Linked DNA regions of Homo sapiens. The protein of the gene in region 1 purifies or fractionates together with the protein of each later gene. This does not show direct contact. Each region holds a gene or a part of one and is shown in the gene's direction. Other genes may lie near its edges. The genes, in order: NYX, SHROOM1, GALNT1, CTU1 and SPRYD7.

Region 1 (2,667 bases):
AATTACGAACTTTTCCAGAGCTTATATACCTTCTTTTTTTGGAGGGGGGGGATGGAGTTTCACTCTTTTCACCCAGGCTGGAGTGCAATGGCACTATCTCAGCTCACTGCAACCTCCGCTTTCTGGGTTCAAGCAATTCTCCTGCCTCAGCCTTCTGAGCAGTTGGGATTACAGGTGCCCACCACCATGCCCGGCTAATTTTTGTATTTTTAGTAGAGACGGGGTTTCACCATGTTGGCCAGGCTAGTCTTTAACTCCTCACCTCAGGTGATCTGCCCACCTCGGCCTCTCGAAGTGTTGGGATTACAGGCGTGAGCCACCGCACCTGGCCCAGAGTTTATATACCTTCTAAGCTACATGTCTACGTGTAAGTGTGCATTCATCTAAAGACATGTGATTAACTTCTTTTAATCTATAACTAAGGTCTGAGTCCTGAAGACCTTCCTCTGGAGCCTCAGTAAATTTACTTAATCTAGATGGGTCCAGGTGCTGGGGTGATTACCCTTATTTTGTCTCCTGCTAAATCATGGAGGTTTGGGGAGTTCCTCCAGACCCCCAATAAACTTGTCTGTGGAGGTCTGGGGAGTTTAGACCCCCAGTAAAACTTGTTTAATCCTAAATGGGTCCTGTTAAGAATTATTTCATAATCTTGTCATGCTTTAAGGCCCAGGAAAGGCTTGGGCAAAACTCTTGGTGGGCTTTTGTTACCTTCCAGCCTTTGTATAAGGGCACTGGTGTATATATATATATGTATTTTTTTTTTTTTTTCCCCTGGGGTAACTGGTTCTTTAGCAAGAGGGGAGCACTGGGGAGTATCTTCAGGGTGGCTGAACTTTGCAACCTCTTTAATAAACAACTTCCCCCTGTGCAGTTTGTCCTCCTTTATCACCACACTCCGATGCCCTGGTATTCAGGCAATGGCATCAGGCCCATATTTCCGTAGAGTTCAGAGTTCTGTGAGGTAGAGCATTCCTTCCAATGGGATCTTAGAATTCTTAGAGTTGCAGAATTTTACTGACTAGACTCAGGAGGTCTCAGGAGTCCAGACTTCCTTAAAGCTTGGCTCAAAATTCCAAGGGAGCTCATAACTCCATGGAGCCCAGAGTTCCTGGCTCGGGAACATTGGGAGGCCTGGGATACAGTGGCTTAGCCTCAAGCAAAAAGGTGAACAATATCTTTATGGCTTGAAGGTATACGAAATAATGTCACTACATCGGAGCAGCGCCTCTGCTTGCACACCTATGGGAGTCTGTAGCTGTGACACATAGAAGTTGGCCACATCCATGTCGGTGGCTCCAAAGTGGGTGGCCACACGCACACCCTCGTGCAATGTGAAGCTCACCTGATGACTCACCATGGCCAGCAGGCCGCGGAGGTAACGATCCCGAAGGGCGGCTCGGGCCCGCTGCTTCTGGGATTCCAAGGATTCTTGAGCTATGGAACACTCCTGGATTTCAAGAACCTCTGACTACAGGGGGGCTCTGCGTCCATCAGGGGCAAAGCCACGGCTGAGACCATCAGGGCCTCGGGGCAGCCGGAGCACAGGCACAGGAAAGGTCACTGGAGCCTGCATTGTCTTGGCGAGGTCCGTGGCTACTGTGCGCGCCCCCACTTCCGCCGGCACCCCGCAGTAGAGGCCAGGGCAGGCCCCGAGCCGCGGAGCCTGGGTTCCGCCTGCGCCACCGCCACCAACCCACGTGTCACGGGCAAATTTATTTATTTATTTATTTATTTTTGATATGGAGTCTCACTCTGTCGCCCAGGCTAGAGTGCTGTGGCGTGATCTCAGCTCACTGGAACCTCCGCCTCCCGGGTTCAAGGGATTCTCGTGCTTCAGCCTCCCAAGTAGGTGGGATTACAGGAGCCCGTCACCACGCCCGGCTAATTTTTGTATTTTTAGTAGAGACGGAGTTTCACCATGTTGCTCAGGCTGGTGTGAACTCCTGAGCTCAGGTGATCTGCCCGCCTCGGCCTCCCAAAGTGCTGGGATTACAGGCGTGAGCCACTGCGACCGGTCAGCTTTTAATATTTAACTTAACCATTCAGTCAGTGCCGAAACAGTAGTTATGGAGGCCTGCATTAGTGAGTCCTGGCCTGCCACACTAGGAGCACACAAGTGGTGGTACAGGCAGGAGGGAGTTTAGAACGGGGTCAGCTGCAGGGATTGCAGCTGGGTTTTGCTGATTAAGGTAACCGGAAAGCAAAGGAGCGGGTGTCTTAGGTGGATAAACCCGTGTGAGGCCGCGGAGGTGGGAAGAGGCCATGTGCCTGACACAAGATAACTCGGTGGAGGGCCTGCATCCTGCTGCCCGGACAGGCAGGATTTTTCCTGGGGTGACCTTTGGCTGACGGTTGCTCCTTTTTTCTCTTTTCTCCTCCTTCCCGACTCCCCACCACCCTGTCCCCGCAGCGGTGGTCCTCGGCCTGCCCAGCGCCTGGGCCGTGGGGGCCTGCGCCCGCGCTTGTCCCGCCGCCTGCGCCTGCAGCACCGTGGAGCGCGGCTGCTCGGTGCGCTGCGACCGCGCGGGCCTCCTGCGGGTGCCGGCCGAGCTCCCGTGCGAGGCGGTCTCCATCGACCTGGACCGGAACGGCCTGCGCTTCCTGGGCGAGCGAGCCTTCGGCACGCTGCCGTCCTTGCGCCGCCTGTCGCTGCGCCACAACAACCTG
Region 2 (3,266 bases), on another chromosome or scaffold:
AGAGGGTCTCAGAGACCTGCATTGTGCCTGCCTGGCTCCCCTCCCTTCCTGATGAAGTGTTCCTAGAAGAGGCCCCACTGGTCAGAATGAGATCACCACCAGACCCCCATGCCTCCCAGGGGCCCCCAGCCAGGTAATTCCCTCTTGCTTCCAAGCATCGTGAGGCACCCCCTGACACACACATCTACAAAACGCTAGAGGGGTGGGAATGCTCTCCTAGCTGGAGCCTGGGATTCCAGGTGATGGGGGTAGGGACAGATGGCCCTTGGAGGCCACCATTTGTTTGTGGCTGGAGCTTTTTCTGATTCAGTGTCTTTTCTGCTTCCAGTGTCCATGCCTCTGACCAGCCGTATGGAACTGGCTTAGGCCAAAGAACTGGCCAGGTTACAGTCCCCACAGAGTACCCGCTCCATGAGTGTCCAGGAACTGCAGGGGCAGATGACTGCTGGCAGGGGGTGAATGGTTCTGTAGGTATTTCCAGGCCCACAAGCCACACCCCCACTGGGACTGCAAATGATAACATCCCAACTATTGACCCCACTGGACTGACCACCAATCCCCCCACAGCTGCAGAGAGTGACCTCCTCAAACCTGTCCCAGCTGATGCCTTGGGACTTTCAGGCAATGATACTCCAGGTCCCTCTCACAATACTGCCCTAGCCAGGGGCACTGGCCAGCCTGGTTCCAGGCCCACATGGCCTAGTCAGTGCCTCGAGGAGCTGGTTCAGGAGCTGGCCAGATTAGATCCCTCTCTATGTGACCCTCTTGCTTCCCAGCCCAGCCCAGAGCCACCCCTGGGCCTGCTGGATGGACTGATTCCTTTAGCAGAGGTCCGGGCTGCAATGCGGCCTGCCTGTGGGGAGGCTGGAGAGGAGGCTGCCAGTACTTTTGAGCCAGGGTGAGTGAGGTGTACTAGGGAATCTGGACACTGAGCCCCTGAAGTTGGGGACAGGAAACCCAGGGAGCTCTGGTTTTGTTCCCAGGTCCTATCAGTTCAGCTTCACCCAGCTCCTGCCGGCTCCTCGGGAGGAGACAAGGCTTGAAAACCCTGCCACCCACCCTGTGCTTGACCAGCCATGTGGGCAGGGGCTCCCTGCACCAAACAACAGCATCCAGGGCAAGAAAGTGAGTGGAGAAGGGCTGGTGGAGGCTGGGGGTGGGTAGGAGCCCAGAGCCTGGGCAGGGAAGTCATGAGCCTGGCCCCAGCCTTGAGCCTTCCCTGTAGGTGGAGCTGGCCGCCCGCCTCCAAAAGATGCTTCAGGACCTTCACACGGAGCAGGAGCGGCTGCAGGGGGAGGCACAAGCGTGGGCCAGGCGCCAAGCGGCTCTGGAGGCTGCAGTGCGCCAGGCCTGTGCCCCTCAGGAGCTGGAGCGGTTCAGCCGGTTCATGGCCGACCTAGAGCGCGTGCTTGGCCTTCTGCTGCTGCTGGGCAGTCGCCTGGCGCGCGTGCGCCGCGCCCTGGCCCGGGCGGCCTCAGACAGCGACCCTGATGAGCAGGTAAAAGGGGTTCAGGTTGCAAGCGAGTAGGGCGGTGAGGGGCCTGCTGTCTCCGGCTGGAACCATTCCGGGAGCGGCGGCGCCCTCACCCGGCTCACGGCGCCTCTTCCTGCGGCTCAAGGCCTCCCTGCTGCAGCGACTCCGGCTCCTGCAGCGGCAGGAGGAGGACGCCAAGGAGCTGAAGGAGCACGTAGCGCGGCGCGAGCGGGCCGTGCGGGAGGTGCTGGTGCGAGCACTACCGGTGGAGGAGCTGCGCGTCTATTGCGCCCTGCTGGCGGGCAAGGCCGCCGTCCTGGCCCAGCAGCGCAACCTGGACGAGCGCATCCGCCTCCTTCAGGACCAACTGGACGCCATCAGGGACGACCTTGGCCATCATGCCCCGTCTCCCAGCCCGGCGCGGCCCCCAGGGACCTGTCCTCCAGTTCAGCCGCCCTTCCCTCTTCTCCTTACATAGTTATAGGTGGAGAGGGTGGGGTGCACCGCCCCTATCTCTCACCCACGTAAGTGGGGTGATGCTGATTTAGTCTCTGCTTTTCCCTTGAGGGATTGGGGAGGACCCAGTCCAGGCCTTTCTAAGATACTCCTCCAGCCGGGCGCGGTGGCTCACGCCTGTAATCCCAGCACTTTGGGAGGCCGAGGCGGGCGGATCACAAGGTCAGGAGATCGAGACCATCCTGGCTAACACGGTGAAACCCCGTCTCTACTAAAAATATAAAAAATTAGCCGGGCGTGGTGGCGGGTGCCTGTATTGCCAGCTACTCGGAAGGCTGAGGCAGGAGAATGGCGTGAACCTGGGAGGTGGAGCTTGCAGTGAGCGGACATCGCGCCACTGCACTCCAGCCTGGGCGACAGAGCAAGACTCCGTCTCAAAAAAAAAAAAAAAAAAAAAAAAAAAAAAGATACTTCTCCAAAGTGTTCTCATGTGGCCTCACCCAGGTCTTGTGTATTATTTGGTAATTAATTTATGGATCTTAAAAACTGCAGTATTCCCCCATTTTGTGATGAGAGTGTGGGGCTGGCAGGGGTTGGTTGGAGGGAGGAGAGAAGACAGAGGAGCACTTAAGGTGCAAAGCAGCCTATTTTTTCTTCAATAAAAATTGTTAAGAGAAGTGTGTGTGTCATCTGCAGCACAGCTGTGGGAGGAGTGAGAGGGGTCTTGTTTACACAGTCACCAGCCCTGGCTGACTAGAGCAGAAGAGGGATTTGCTGGCAGAATATCAGTCAACCCTGCCAATGTCTAGTTAGTCTGGAGAACCTGGCTTGAAAACAGGAGGGACCAGGGGAATACTGCGCTTTCAACTCCACTGTCACCAGTATTTCCTAACTGTTCCAGTGACTGTGTCACAGCCACAAAGGCCTAGGTCTGATTGGCTGAGTCCAGATTCTGTAGCTGGTTTCTAGCCAACATCCCAGCTTCAGTAGAGAAGTAGGAGTCCTGTCTCCTTTCAAGACTCAAGCTACTGAAATGGGCTCAGATGCTGTGCTGCCTAAATGCCCTGACAAATATTCAGAATACTTGGACATCTGGGGACATTCATTCCAAGACCCAGAAAGCACTTTCTTCTTCCAGTTATGTTATCAACACTGTTTATCCTCCTCTCCTTCAGAGATACCACTGGGTCAGCCAGGCCTGAGGCGGGCAGTCGAGGGTGGGAGCTGAAGGTGAGGGGTGGGAGACCTCAAGACCCTCCATGCTGGGACTAAGGACCTGGAGACATAGCAGTGGTTGTAATCTGAGGGTGGGCCATGGTTGGGCGTGGGCAGTTGG
Region 3 (3,762 bases), on another chromosome or scaffold:
AAGGAAGTTGAAAGAGTACGGAAGTTGAAAGAGTCCTGTCAAGGTGATTTTGAGCAGAGATCTGAAGAAAGTGAATGAGCAGGTCATACGAGTTTTTAGGGAAAGAGTATTCTGGGCACAGGGAAGAACAAGTATAAAGGTTTCTAAGATGACAATGTACTTAGCGCGTTCCAGAAACAGCAGGGAGACCAGTTGTCTGGAATAGAGTGAACAAGGTGGAGAGTAGTAGAAGATAAGGTCAAAGACAAAGTGAGGGTCAAATCATATAAAGCTTTTAGGTTATAGTGAGAACTTTGCATTTTGCATTTTATTCTGAATCAAATGGAAGCTATCGAAAGATACCAGCAAACTTCCACTAGAAAAGGATCACATTGTATGCTATGTGGAGAAAAACTATATGGAAACAGGAGTAGAGCTGGTGTATTGTTGAAGAGAGTAAAGGATTATGTCTGGTTTCTATCAAGCTTGAGACACTGACTGTAAAGTTGCCATTACTGAGATGGGAAAACCTACAGGAAGAGCAGATGCTCAAGGGAATCAACAGTAGTTTGGGACACATCAAATTTGAGATCCAAGTGAAGATATGAATAGGTCTTTACATTTAAGAATATTCACTTTGGGGGAGAGGTTGTGATAGAGATGTTAACTTAGGTTGTCAGCATATAGGATGGTTTTTAAAGCCACAAAACTGTATGAGGTCACCTGAGGAGGAGAAAATGTTAAGTATGAGAGAGAAGACCGAGGACAATGCCAGAGGGAATGCCACAGTTTAGAAATCATGGAGATGAGAAGGAATCAGCAAAAAAGATTGAGAAGGAGTAGGCAGTGAAATAGGAGAACCTAGAGAGTGGTGTCGCCAAGACTAAGGGAAAGACGTGTTTCAGGAAAGAGGAAGTGATCAGCTGTATCGAATACTGCAGAGAAATTGAGGAAGATGAGTACTTAGAATTGGTTATTGCATTTGGCTAGGGACATGTTATCAGTAGCCTATCTCACAGTGTTGAGAGAGTTCCCCATGGATGTTGTTAAAAACTCTGTTTTGAAGAGAGAATGGAAGAAGCAACATAGATGAATGTGTACAAGTCTTGCAAGGAATTTTCTTGTAAAAGAGAGAAGATAAATAGGTGGTAGCTGGAGGAGAATATGGGCTTAAAGGGGTTTTTATTTCTTTATTAAGATAAAACTGTGCTGATATGAGCAACCCAAAAGAGAAAATTTAAAGATGCAAAAGAAAGAGCCAACTTAACACCCATTAGAATGGCCACTATCAAAAAAACAGAGAATGACACATGTTGGCAAGGATACTGAAAAATTGGAACCCTTGTGCATTGTTGGTGTGAATGTAAAATGGTACAACTGCTATTTAAAAATAGTATGGAGGTTTCTCAAAAAATGCTCAAAAAAGAGAACTACGATATTATCCAGCAATTCCACCTCAGGGTATGTATCCAAAGGAAATGAACGCAGGGTCTGAAGAGTTACTTTTACTTACATGTTTATAACAGCACTATTCACAATAGCCAAGAAGTAGAAGCACTCCACGTGTCCGTTCATTCTGGCCCAGCTAGCAATGCTTAGGCATTGTCCAAAATTGGGTCAGTTCAAAGTAAAAAACTCCTCCTTCTTGGTTCTAAAGACAAGCTACAGAGTGACTGCTATAAATCGTGATACAACGTACAATGGAATATTTTTCAGTCTTAAAAAGGAAGGAAATTCTGATACATGCTACAACATGGATGAACCTTGAGGACCTTATGTTAAGCATAATACGACAGTCACCAAAAGAGAAATGCTGTATGATTCTCCTTATATAAGGCAGCTAGAATAGTCAAACTCATAGAAACAGAAAGTAGAATGGTGGTTACCAGGGCTGAGGGAAGGGCCTAAAGAAGAGTTACTTCATGGGCATAGAGTTTCACATTTGCAAGATGAAAAAGTTCTGGAGATTTGTTTCACAACAGCCTGAATATACTTAACACTACTAAACTGTACACTTGAAAACAGTTTAGATGGTAAATTTTATGTTATGTGTTTCTGCACCAGAATAAAAAGAAAGAAGGGATCTGTTGTTATGGGTGTCATGTATTTGGGTGGATAGGAGGTGAAATCTGTACACAAGTAGAGGGTGTTGGGTGGGGGTGGGAAGAAGAGAGGTCATCTCTTATCATGGGGAGGAAGGTAGAGGAATGGGAACAAGTGCAGGGCAGCTGTAGGTTTGGAGGTGGAAACTGGCAGTTTGTGGTGGAAGTGTGAGGACCTTCTCTTCTGGTGGCTTGTTTCCTCAGTTGAACACAAGATTATGGGCTGAGAGTGAAGAAGGTGTTGGTGAGGGGGAATTGGGGAAAGAGAAAAGGATGTAAAATAGAAATGTAAGATAAGGGAAAGCAAGTAGATCACTGAAGGAAGCCAGATGGTGGAGAGTTGGTGAAGCCATCTGGCCTGGTGTTTTCTTCAGTGCCAGGGCAGGCACAGACTTACGCATTTATCCTAACAGTTACTAAGGCTACTTCAGGATTGACTTGAGCTCCCTACCTCTGAACCTTGTTGTGATTTAAGGAATTTGTTTTCAAACAAGTGAGGGCTACATTGAGTTTCTTGAGCCTTTCATTCTCACTGATGCCTCATTAATGGGAATGTGTTTTCCTTTGCTGTGACCTCGTACTGGTCAAAGAAGGCCCAGGGTGAGTGGTGCGCCAGGGAAAGATTTCTAGCAGTCACTCTGCAGCTTGTCTTTAGAACCAAAAATGAGGAGTTTTTTGTTTTTGTTTTGTTTTTTTTGAGCTGACCCAATTTTGGACAATGCCTAGGCATTGTTAGCTGGGCCAGAGTTCGGGCGTGTGACAAAGAAACACTTGTCTGCTCCATGGTAGATGACTGCCAAGGCAAGCTTGCGTCTTACCTGCCTCTTGCCAGCTGGCTTCTGGGCAAGTCGCAGCGTTTACCCTCTGTGGCCTGCTTGTTATCGCCTTATTAACTTAACAGCTGGCCTTAAGCCTTGTACGCCCTTAATACCAGGCCACATCCTACAGGTTAAAAGTGTCATTTCTAGATTGGAGGTCATTCTTAAGAGTACCCACCATAGTGCAGCCCAGGGATCTTATGCTTCTGATCACAGCTTCACCCATGTGAGCCTTCCTTTGCTAGCAACAGTAATTTAGCCTTTCATAGATCTCTTCTCATGCTTCAAGGGTCCAGGGAAACCTGAAATCATAGGATTTTTCAGCAGAAAGGGAAATCAGAAAATGTAAATATGACTAGGGTAATAGATATAATTTAGGGCATCTGGCTTCAGCTAACGCTGACGTTCGTAGTTCCTGTAGGACCTGAACAAATGTGTTTCATTGTGGTATCTGATAGTTGTTAACTCAGGAGCTGAGTATTCTAAACAACAAAAAGTAAACAATCTAGACCTTTACTGGTTTAGTCAGTTTTAGGGGCTGACCAATTGCTTTTCCAGGCAGATCTAATAATCCTAACATTTACTGAGCATGTACTTTATGTCAAGCACAAATCTGAATGCTTGATGAATATTAAAGCACAACACTATAGGATTGTGCTGTTATTTCCACTTCACAGATAAGTAAACTGAGACACAAATAAATGGTTTAAAAAACACGGCTAAACTCACAACCATCTGGTTTGAGAGCCTGTGCTGTTAACCCCTAATGTCCGTATTCTTTCTCAAATCTAACCAGTATTTCCCTTGCAGCAGAGAGTAGAAAAGTGAATCCAGATTCACTAATGCTAGATTATAAAAATGGT
Region 4 (3,762 bases), on another chromosome or scaffold:
GGAGTTTTTATGGGTTCACCAGGCAGGCAGGACCAGGATTTGACTGGAGGGTTGGAGTCTAGGCTGGGTGGGGAAGAATGAAGTAGGAAAGATAACAGATGAAGGTCAAAGATGGGCCGATCCATGTCTTGGTGAGAGCACAGAAGCTTGTGGGGCATTCTGATACCAGAGCAGGGTTGAGTTCAATCTTGGAGGCCCACCCATTTTCTCACCCTCAAAATGTGTGCAACCCCAGCTGGTCTCCTGAGAGGTGTGATCCAGGCTGCCTGTGTTCCCTGGAGAAGGTGATCACCCTGCCTTTCATAGGATGCAATCAGAACCCATTCCTGGAGACCGTATCCCACCCTACAAAGTGCAATCAGTTGGCCTTTCCTGTTTTCCACCTCCCGCTGCACAGAGCTTCAGTCCCCTGGCCTCCCTCTGCCCTTAGAGTCAAAAACCCCTCACCTCCCAAGGGCTTTTAACAGCCCTGGTGGCCCAGGCCAATGATACCTACCTTGTCCTGATCAGGACTGTAACAAGGGTGGCCTCCCTGGAGGTTGTGACAAATGGGCCTTAATATACACCCCCATCCCTCTGGAGAGGACACAACCTAATCCTGGGTATAACCTGCTTGTCGCTCCCTCTCTTTACCCATGAAGCCAGCTTCTTAAGCTACTTCTCTTCTTCTTGCATAATGGGTGCAATCCAAGAAGCCTTCCCTAAGGCAGTGGCTTCCTTACACCGGACCTATTTATAACCATCCTATCCCCAGCGCTAGAAGAAGCTACTCCACTCGCGCACACGTCTCCCTGGTCTATTCCGGGCAGAGGTGCAATCCAGACAATCTCCCCGATGGCAGGGACCCTGCAATCCGGAATCCATATGTAACCCACCTCCTCTCTCTCCCTGTCTAGGAGAAGCCGACCCCTCCCGCAATGCCCGCCCCGCCGTGCGCCTCCTGCCATGCTGCACGCGCCGCCCTCCGCCGTCCGCTCTCGGGCCAAGCGCTGTGCGGTGCCTGCTTCTGCGCCGCCTTCGAGGCCGAGGTGCTGCACACGGTGCTCGCCGGCCGCCTGCTGCCGCCCGGCGCGGTGGTGGCCGTGGGCGCCTCGGGCGGCAAGGACTCCACGGTGCTGGCGCACGTGCTGCGCGCGCTGGCGCCGCGCCTGGGCATCTCACTGCAGCTCGTGGCCGTCGATGAGGGCATCGGTGGCTACCGGGACGCGGCGTTGGCGGCCGTGCGGCGCCAGGCGGCGCGCTGGGAGCTGCCGCTCACGGTCGTGGCCTACGAAGACCTCTTTGGGGGCTGGACGATGGACGCCGTGGCCCGCAGCACAGCCGGCTCCGGCCGCAGCCGCTCCTGCTGCACCTTCTGTGGAGTGCTGCGGCGCCGGGCGCTGGAGGAAGGGGCGCGCCGCGTGGGAGCCACGCACATCGTGACAGGTGAGCGTAGTACGGGCCGCAGAGCGGCACTCTCCGAGGCAGTGGGGCGAATGCACAGGCGAGGAGGCGGGACCTGAAAGGGGATTCAGGCGCATGCTCCAGAAGGCGGCGAGGAGACCCTGGTGGCTTAATGGGAGGATCCCTGTACGGAGGTGCGGAAGGGCGCATGCTGCAGTTTGGGGCTGGGGCCCTTTAAAGGTTCAAGACGCTGGGGAGACAGAGGGGCCAGGCAGTGATCACAAAGGTTTTTGGGTCTTGGCCACCGTCTTGGTCTCCACAGATTGCCAAAGGGGTGGGAGGTGAAAATCTCTGGAGATCTCTGGTCCTTTACTTATTTTTAAATGTTTCTAACATGCTTGATCTCTTATGGTCCACCTTTCAGAATCCAGCTCTTTCTCTAAAAAGCATCTCCATCTCTTAATTCCTTTTCTTGGTTGGCCTCTCCTCTTTGATAACTTTTTTTTTTTTTTTTTTTTTGAGACAGAGTCTCGCTCTGTCTCCCAGGCTGGAGTGCAGTGGTGCGATCTCGGCTTACTGCAACCTCTGCCTCCCGGATTCACGCCATTCTCCTGGCTCAGCCTCCCGAGTAGCCGGGGCTACAGGTGCCTGCCACCACGCCCAGCTAATTTTTTGTATTTTTAGTAGAGACGGGGTTTCACCATGTTAGCCAGGATGATCTCGATCTCCTGACCTCGTGATCCACCCACCTCGGCCTCCCAAAGTGCTGGAAGATAACTTTTTTATTCTGTCTTTTTCATCCATTCCTTCAACAAACAGATGCTAAGTTTCTGCTATATGCCGGATCCCAACTGTGGCCATACCAAAGTTCTTAACCACTCTGTACTTCTGTTTCACCCCATCCCTAAAACAGGACTATGAATGGTACCCAGCTCATAAACTTGTTATGACAATTAGATGAGTCAGTAGAAGTATAACGTTATCTATATTATAGTTATGTTACATAACCCGTATGATATAATATAGATTACACATTTTATACATGCTATTATCATCATCATTGTCAGGCTAGGGCTGAGAATACAGTTACGCACAAGTTCCTACCTTTGCATGGTTATCAGGTACAAAATTATAAACATTATACATGTTATTGACCATGTATGGACATGTTATGGACTATGTGTACACACAGAGAACCCTATGACGTGGAGGGAGTGGGGTCAAGGAACGGTTTTGAAATCTGAAGGCTCACAGTGAAGAGGTAAAGCGGGTAAGAATTAGGGAGAGGTTATTGGCCTGTGAAAAGCCAATTTGGGCTGCCCCAAGAAGTCCAGTGTGGCTGGAACCCAGAAAGCAAGGGCAGGGGAGGCTGGAGAGGTGGAAGAGGTCAGGCCTTACCCTGTAGGCTGTGGCGGAACCAGTAAAAGTGACATGAAGAGAGTTTCACTTTGAAAAGCTCACCCAGGCCATGGCGAGGAACCTGGGTTGGAGGGACAGGGACAAAGCCGAGGAGACCAGTCAGTGGGAAGCCAGCTGCGGTGATGGAGGTGAGAGATGATGGTTGGAGAGAATCAGCACACTGAAAGCATATGAAGGCAAAAGTAGTTCTGAGGCTGTCATGTGCCACCATGCTAGGTAGGGCCACTGGCTCTGGGGAAGGCTTACTGAGCTTCATTCACTGATGTGGCCCTTTCCTTACTGAGTAACTTTGGAGAAATCCCTAGATCTCTGTGATTGAAAATGGGAAGAATAATCCTTACCATACAAGAGCAGACAGTGTATGGAAAGAATGAAAGGCTTCGGCCGGGCACAGTGGCTCACACCTGTAATCCCAGCACTTTGGGAGGCTGAGGCAGGCGGAATCACAAGGTCAAACGTTCGAGGCCAGCCTGGCCAACATGGTGAAACCCCGTCTCTACTAAGAATACAAAAATTAGCTGAGTGTGGTGGTGGGCGGCTGTAATCCCAGCTACACGGGAGGCTGAGGCAGGAGAATTGCTTGAACCCGGGAGGCGGAGGTTGCAGTGAGTCGAGATCACGCCACTGCACTCCAGCCTGGGTGACAGAGCAAGATTCCAGCTGGGGGAGAAAAAAAAAGAATGAGAGGCTGCCTCGGATTTTAAAGTTAATTTGATAGAATCACTTATTAATTGTACTTCCAAAAGTAATGAAGCCTTCCAGAAAAATCCCTGACTTGCAAGGTGATTTCTACCCTTTGTTTATACACTCCATTTTCAAAGGCGTAGTATAATAATTGTTGTAATAATTATTACAAAACTGGGAGCTCTTAAGTGGGTTTGTAATGACAAGGTGTGGAGCAAATCCAGTCTCCCCTAATTAATGTGGTTTACAACTTTAAGTCAATAAACATTCAACGAG
Region 5 (3,762 bases), on another chromosome or scaffold:
ATTGTTTTGTTTTTTTTGAGACAGAGTCTCATTCCATCGCCAGACTGGAGTGCAGTGGCACGATCTTGGCTCACTGAAACCTCCGCCTCCCAGGTTCAAGCGATTCTCCTGCCTCAGCCTCCCGAGTAGATGGGACTACAAGCACGCACCACCACACCCAGCTAATTTTTGTATTTTTAGTAGAGATGGGGTTTCACCATGTTGGCCAGGATGGTCTTGATCTCTTGACCTTCTGTTCTGCCCGCCTCGGCCTTCCAAAGTGCTGGGATTATAGGTGTGAGCACCTGGCCAACTTTTATATTTTTACTAGAGATGGGGTTTCACCATGTTGGCCAGGCTGATCTCGAACTCCTGAGCTCAAGTGATCTGCCCACCTCGGCCTCCCAAAGTGCTGAGATTATAGGCATGAGCCACCGTGTCCAGCCTATTTTGTATTATCAACTTTAAGTAAACAGGTATATGATTTTTCTGCCTTTGGTTTTGTAAGTCTAAAAATATTTTCTCATTTAAGTTCTTAAATTTGGGTTATAATAAGAACTAATTAGGACTGGCGTGGTGGCTCACACCTATAATCCCAACACTTTGGGAGGCCGAAGCCGGTGGATCACTTGATGTCAGGAGTTTGAGACCAGCCTGGCCAACATGGTGAAACCCCATCTCTACTAAAAATACAAAAAATTAGCCAGACGTGGTAGCGCACTCCTGTAATCCCAGTTACATGGGAGGCTGAGACAGGAAAATCACTTGAACCCAGGAGATGGAGGTTGCAGTGAGCCGAGATCATGCCATTGCACTCCAGCCTGGGCGACAGAGCAAGACTTAGTCTCCACAAAAAAAAATAAAATAAAATAAAATTAAAAAAGAAAGAAAAATAACTAATTAGGCCAGGCACGGTGGCTCATGCCTGTAATCCCAGCAGTTTGGGAGGCCAAGACAGGTGGGTCACTTGAGGTCTGGAGTTCAAGACTAGCCTGGCCAACATGGTGAAACCGTGTGTGGTGGCACACACCTGTAATCGCAACTACTCAGGAGGGTGAGGCGGAGAATCACTTGAACCCAGGAGGCAGAGGTTGCAGTGAGCCGAGATCACACCACTGTGCTCCAGCCTGGGTGACAGAGCAAGACTCCATCTCAAAAAAAAGAAAAAAAAAAAAAAGAACTAATTTAATTACATTTGTTGTAGTTTACTATAAAAGCAGCACTGGTGCAATGACTCATGCCTGTAATCCCAGCACTTTGGGAGGCTGAGGTAAGAGTTGCTCGAGTCCAGGAGTTGAAGACCAGCCTTGAGCAACATAGTGAGAACACGTCTCGACAAAAAATTTTAAAATTATCCAGGTGTGGTTGTACGTGCCTGTAGTCCCAGCTACTTGAGAGGCTGAGCTGAGAGGATCTCTTGAGCCGGGGAGGTCAAGTCTCCTGTGAGCAGTGATCATCGTGCCGCTGCACTCCAGCCTTGGCACCAGAGTAAGACCCTGTCTCAAAAGCAAAATAAAATTAAAATACTAAAATAAAAATAGCAGTATCAATGATGACAAACTGGGATGTCAGAATTATACAATAACAAATATAAATAATAATATGATAATAGCCAAAGCTTGTGATTACCTTTTAGTTTAAGGTTTTCATTAGCCTTCTTTTCTCCTAAAATTACTTTTCAGTCATTTTACCTTCTGTGTCCTTGCATGTAAATGTGTGTTTTAAAACTCAATTTAGTGTTGCATATTGGGTAAGCCTAAAAGCAATTCCTTTATTTACTTGAGTAAATGGAAATTTAGCTTGATATTTGAAATAGGTTAGCCTGAGAAATAAAATAAATATCAGTAGAGTGACAGTTATACAAGTTAACTGTAGCAAATAAGTTTAATGCTCTAAACTGTTTCTTTTATTCAGCATTATTTGTAATGTACTAAGGTTATAGATACTAAATTATATTTCATAAATTGAACTCATAAATCAGTCCAATTAAACCAAGTGTTTTAATAGCCTGATCCTATCAAAGATAAACATAAAACTTAAATCCCTTTACTCTTTTGTCTTCCATCCCTAATCCTTGATCAATCCAATCATTCATTTTGTCTCTTCTTACACTCAGCCTGTAGAAAGAAAAAGACTGCATAACACTGAAGAAGTGTGGTTACAAAGTTACGACTTCCTGGCTGGGCGCAGTAGCTCACGCCTGTAATCCCAGCACTTTGGGAGGCTGAGGCAGGCGGATCACGAGGTCAGGAGATTGAGACCATCCTGGCTAACAGGGTGAAACCCCGTCTCTACTAAAAATACAAAAAATTAGCTGGGTGTGGTGGCGGGTGCCTGTGGTCCCAGCTACTTGGGAGGCTGAGGCAAGAGAATAGCGTGAACCGGGGAGGCGGAGCTTGCAGTGAGCCGAGATCATGCCACTGCACTCCAGCCTGGGTGACAGAGCGAGACTCTGTCTCAAAAAAGAAAACAACAAAACAAAACAAAAAAAAACAAAGTTATGACTTCTAGCCTAATCTGAGCTCTCAATAATTTTCAGCAATTCTTTGTGCATGTCTATGCATTCTGTGCTTCTTGCATTCTCTATTCATCCTCTGAAAATGCCTTGCCTTCTACCTTACAAAAAAAACAGGCAATCACAAGTGAACTCCAGCTTCCCTCTCTTCAGGTCCAATCCTGCCTTCTTTCCATCTCATCCCAGAAGTGGTACTCTGCATGTTGCAAACACTCTATCTGTAGTCTGGATTCCAAACTCCCCAAATCTGGAACGTCACTTTGTCAGTTATTTCATCGATATCTCATGTCATGGGCCTCCCTCTTCAGTGCTTATAAACATTCTAAGCCCCATCCCAAACGCCCTTCTTTGGGCATGCATCCCTCACTAGTCCTGTGTTTCCCCTTCCCTGGATGGCCACATTTCTTCTAGAATAACCTATATCTGCCATCTTTATTGTTTTTCTTTCTTTTTTTTTTTTAACATTTAGGTTCGGGGGTACATGTGAAGGTTTGTTACACAGGTAAACTGGTGTCACGGTGGGGGGTTTGTTGTATAGATTACTTGACTAGCTCAAGGGTAGAGCATTTGACACCTTTATTGTTATTGTTCGTTTGTTCTGCAACCCAATTCAGCTGCCATTACACCACTAATTGAAACCACCCTTGTTAAAATCACTGGTGACTTCATGAATGTCAAATCCAGTATTTACATTTTTTTCTGCATTTATGCTGAAATATAAAGTATATAGTAATGTGCATTAAACTTATATGTGCAATTTAACAAATAGCTATCAAGTGAACACTCACATTATTACCACTTAGATCAAGAAATAGAACATTTTCTTGGCCCAGATGCAGCCCGCACCACAGCTGCATTCCTCACCCAGGGGGAGTAATCACTATTGGGTGGCAGTGCTGATTATTTACTTGCTTTGCTTTACGGTCATGTTTTGTTTTGTCATCACCAGGGTCAAGGTAATGAACATATTCACCACCCCAAAGGTTTCCTTCTGCCTCTTATATCCTACTCACCACTCCCTACCCCAGCCCCAACCAAACAACCACTGATCTGCTTTCTGTCACTACAGATTAGCCCATATTTTCTAGAGTATTATATTAACAAAATCATATGGTCTTTTCTTTTGGTCTGGCTTCTTTCACTCAGCACAATTATTTGAAGATTCATTTATGCTGTAGCATATATCAATAATTCATCAGTTTTTATTGCTGAGAAGTGTAGCATTGTGTGGATATATCACAATTTCTTTATCCTTCACCAGTTGATGG

What was found.
Region 2: the proteins of NYX (region 1) and SHROOM1 purify together in Homo sapiens (affinity purification with mass spectrometry; 3 studies listed by BioGRID and IntAct, with this or other methods). This does not show direct contact.
Region 3: the proteins of NYX (region 1) and GALNT1 purify together in Homo sapiens (affinity purification with mass spectrometry; 2 studies listed by BioGRID and IntAct, with this or other methods). This does not show direct contact.
Region 4: the proteins of NYX (region 1) and CTU1 purify together in Homo sapiens (affinity purification with mass spectrometry, with the first as the bait; one large-scale study listed by BioGRID). This does not show direct contact.
Region 5: the proteins of NYX (region 1) and SPRYD7 purify together in Homo sapiens (affinity purification with mass spectrometry; 2 studies listed by BioGRID and IntAct, with this or other methods). This does not show direct contact.

Annotation. Positions count from the first base shown.
Region 1 is NC_000023.11:41,471,081-41,473,747, forward strand, and holds part of NYX (nyctalopin precursor), read left to right. Parts: intron 1-2,410; coding exon 2,411-2,667.
Region 2 is NC_000005.10:132,821,482-132,824,747, reverse strand, and holds the end of SHROOM1 (protein Shroom1), read left to right. Parts: coding exon 1-133; intron 134-328; coding exon 329-898; intron 899-983; coding exon 984-1,125; intron 1,126-1,225; coding exon 1,226-1,498; intron 1,499-1,619; coding exon 1,620-1,952; 3' UTR 1,953-2,607; downstream 2,608-3,266. UniProt on the Homo sapiens protein: May be involved in the assembly of microtubule arrays during cell elongation.
Region 3 is NC_000018.10:35,693,139-35,696,900, forward strand, and holds part of GALNT1 (polypeptide N-acetylgalactosaminyltransferase 1), read left to right. Parts: intron 1-3,077; exon of another isoform or gene 3,078-3,201; intron 3,202-3,762. UniProt on the Homo sapiens protein: Catalyzes the initial reaction in O-linked oligosaccharide biosynthesis, the transfer of an N-acetyl-D-galactosamine residue to a serine or threonine residue on the protein receptor.
Region 4 is NC_000019.10:51,101,725-51,105,486, reverse strand, and holds part of CTU1 (cytoplasmic tRNA 2-thiolation protein 1), read left to right. Parts: intron 1-896; 5' UTR 897-917; coding exon 918-1,425; intron 1,426-3,762.
Region 5 is NC_000013.11:49,915,798-49,919,559, reverse strand, and holds part of SPRYD7 (SPRY domain-containing protein 7), read left to right. Parts: intron 1-1,338; exon of another isoform or gene 1,339-1,467; intron 1,468-2,095; exon of another isoform or gene 2,096-3,762.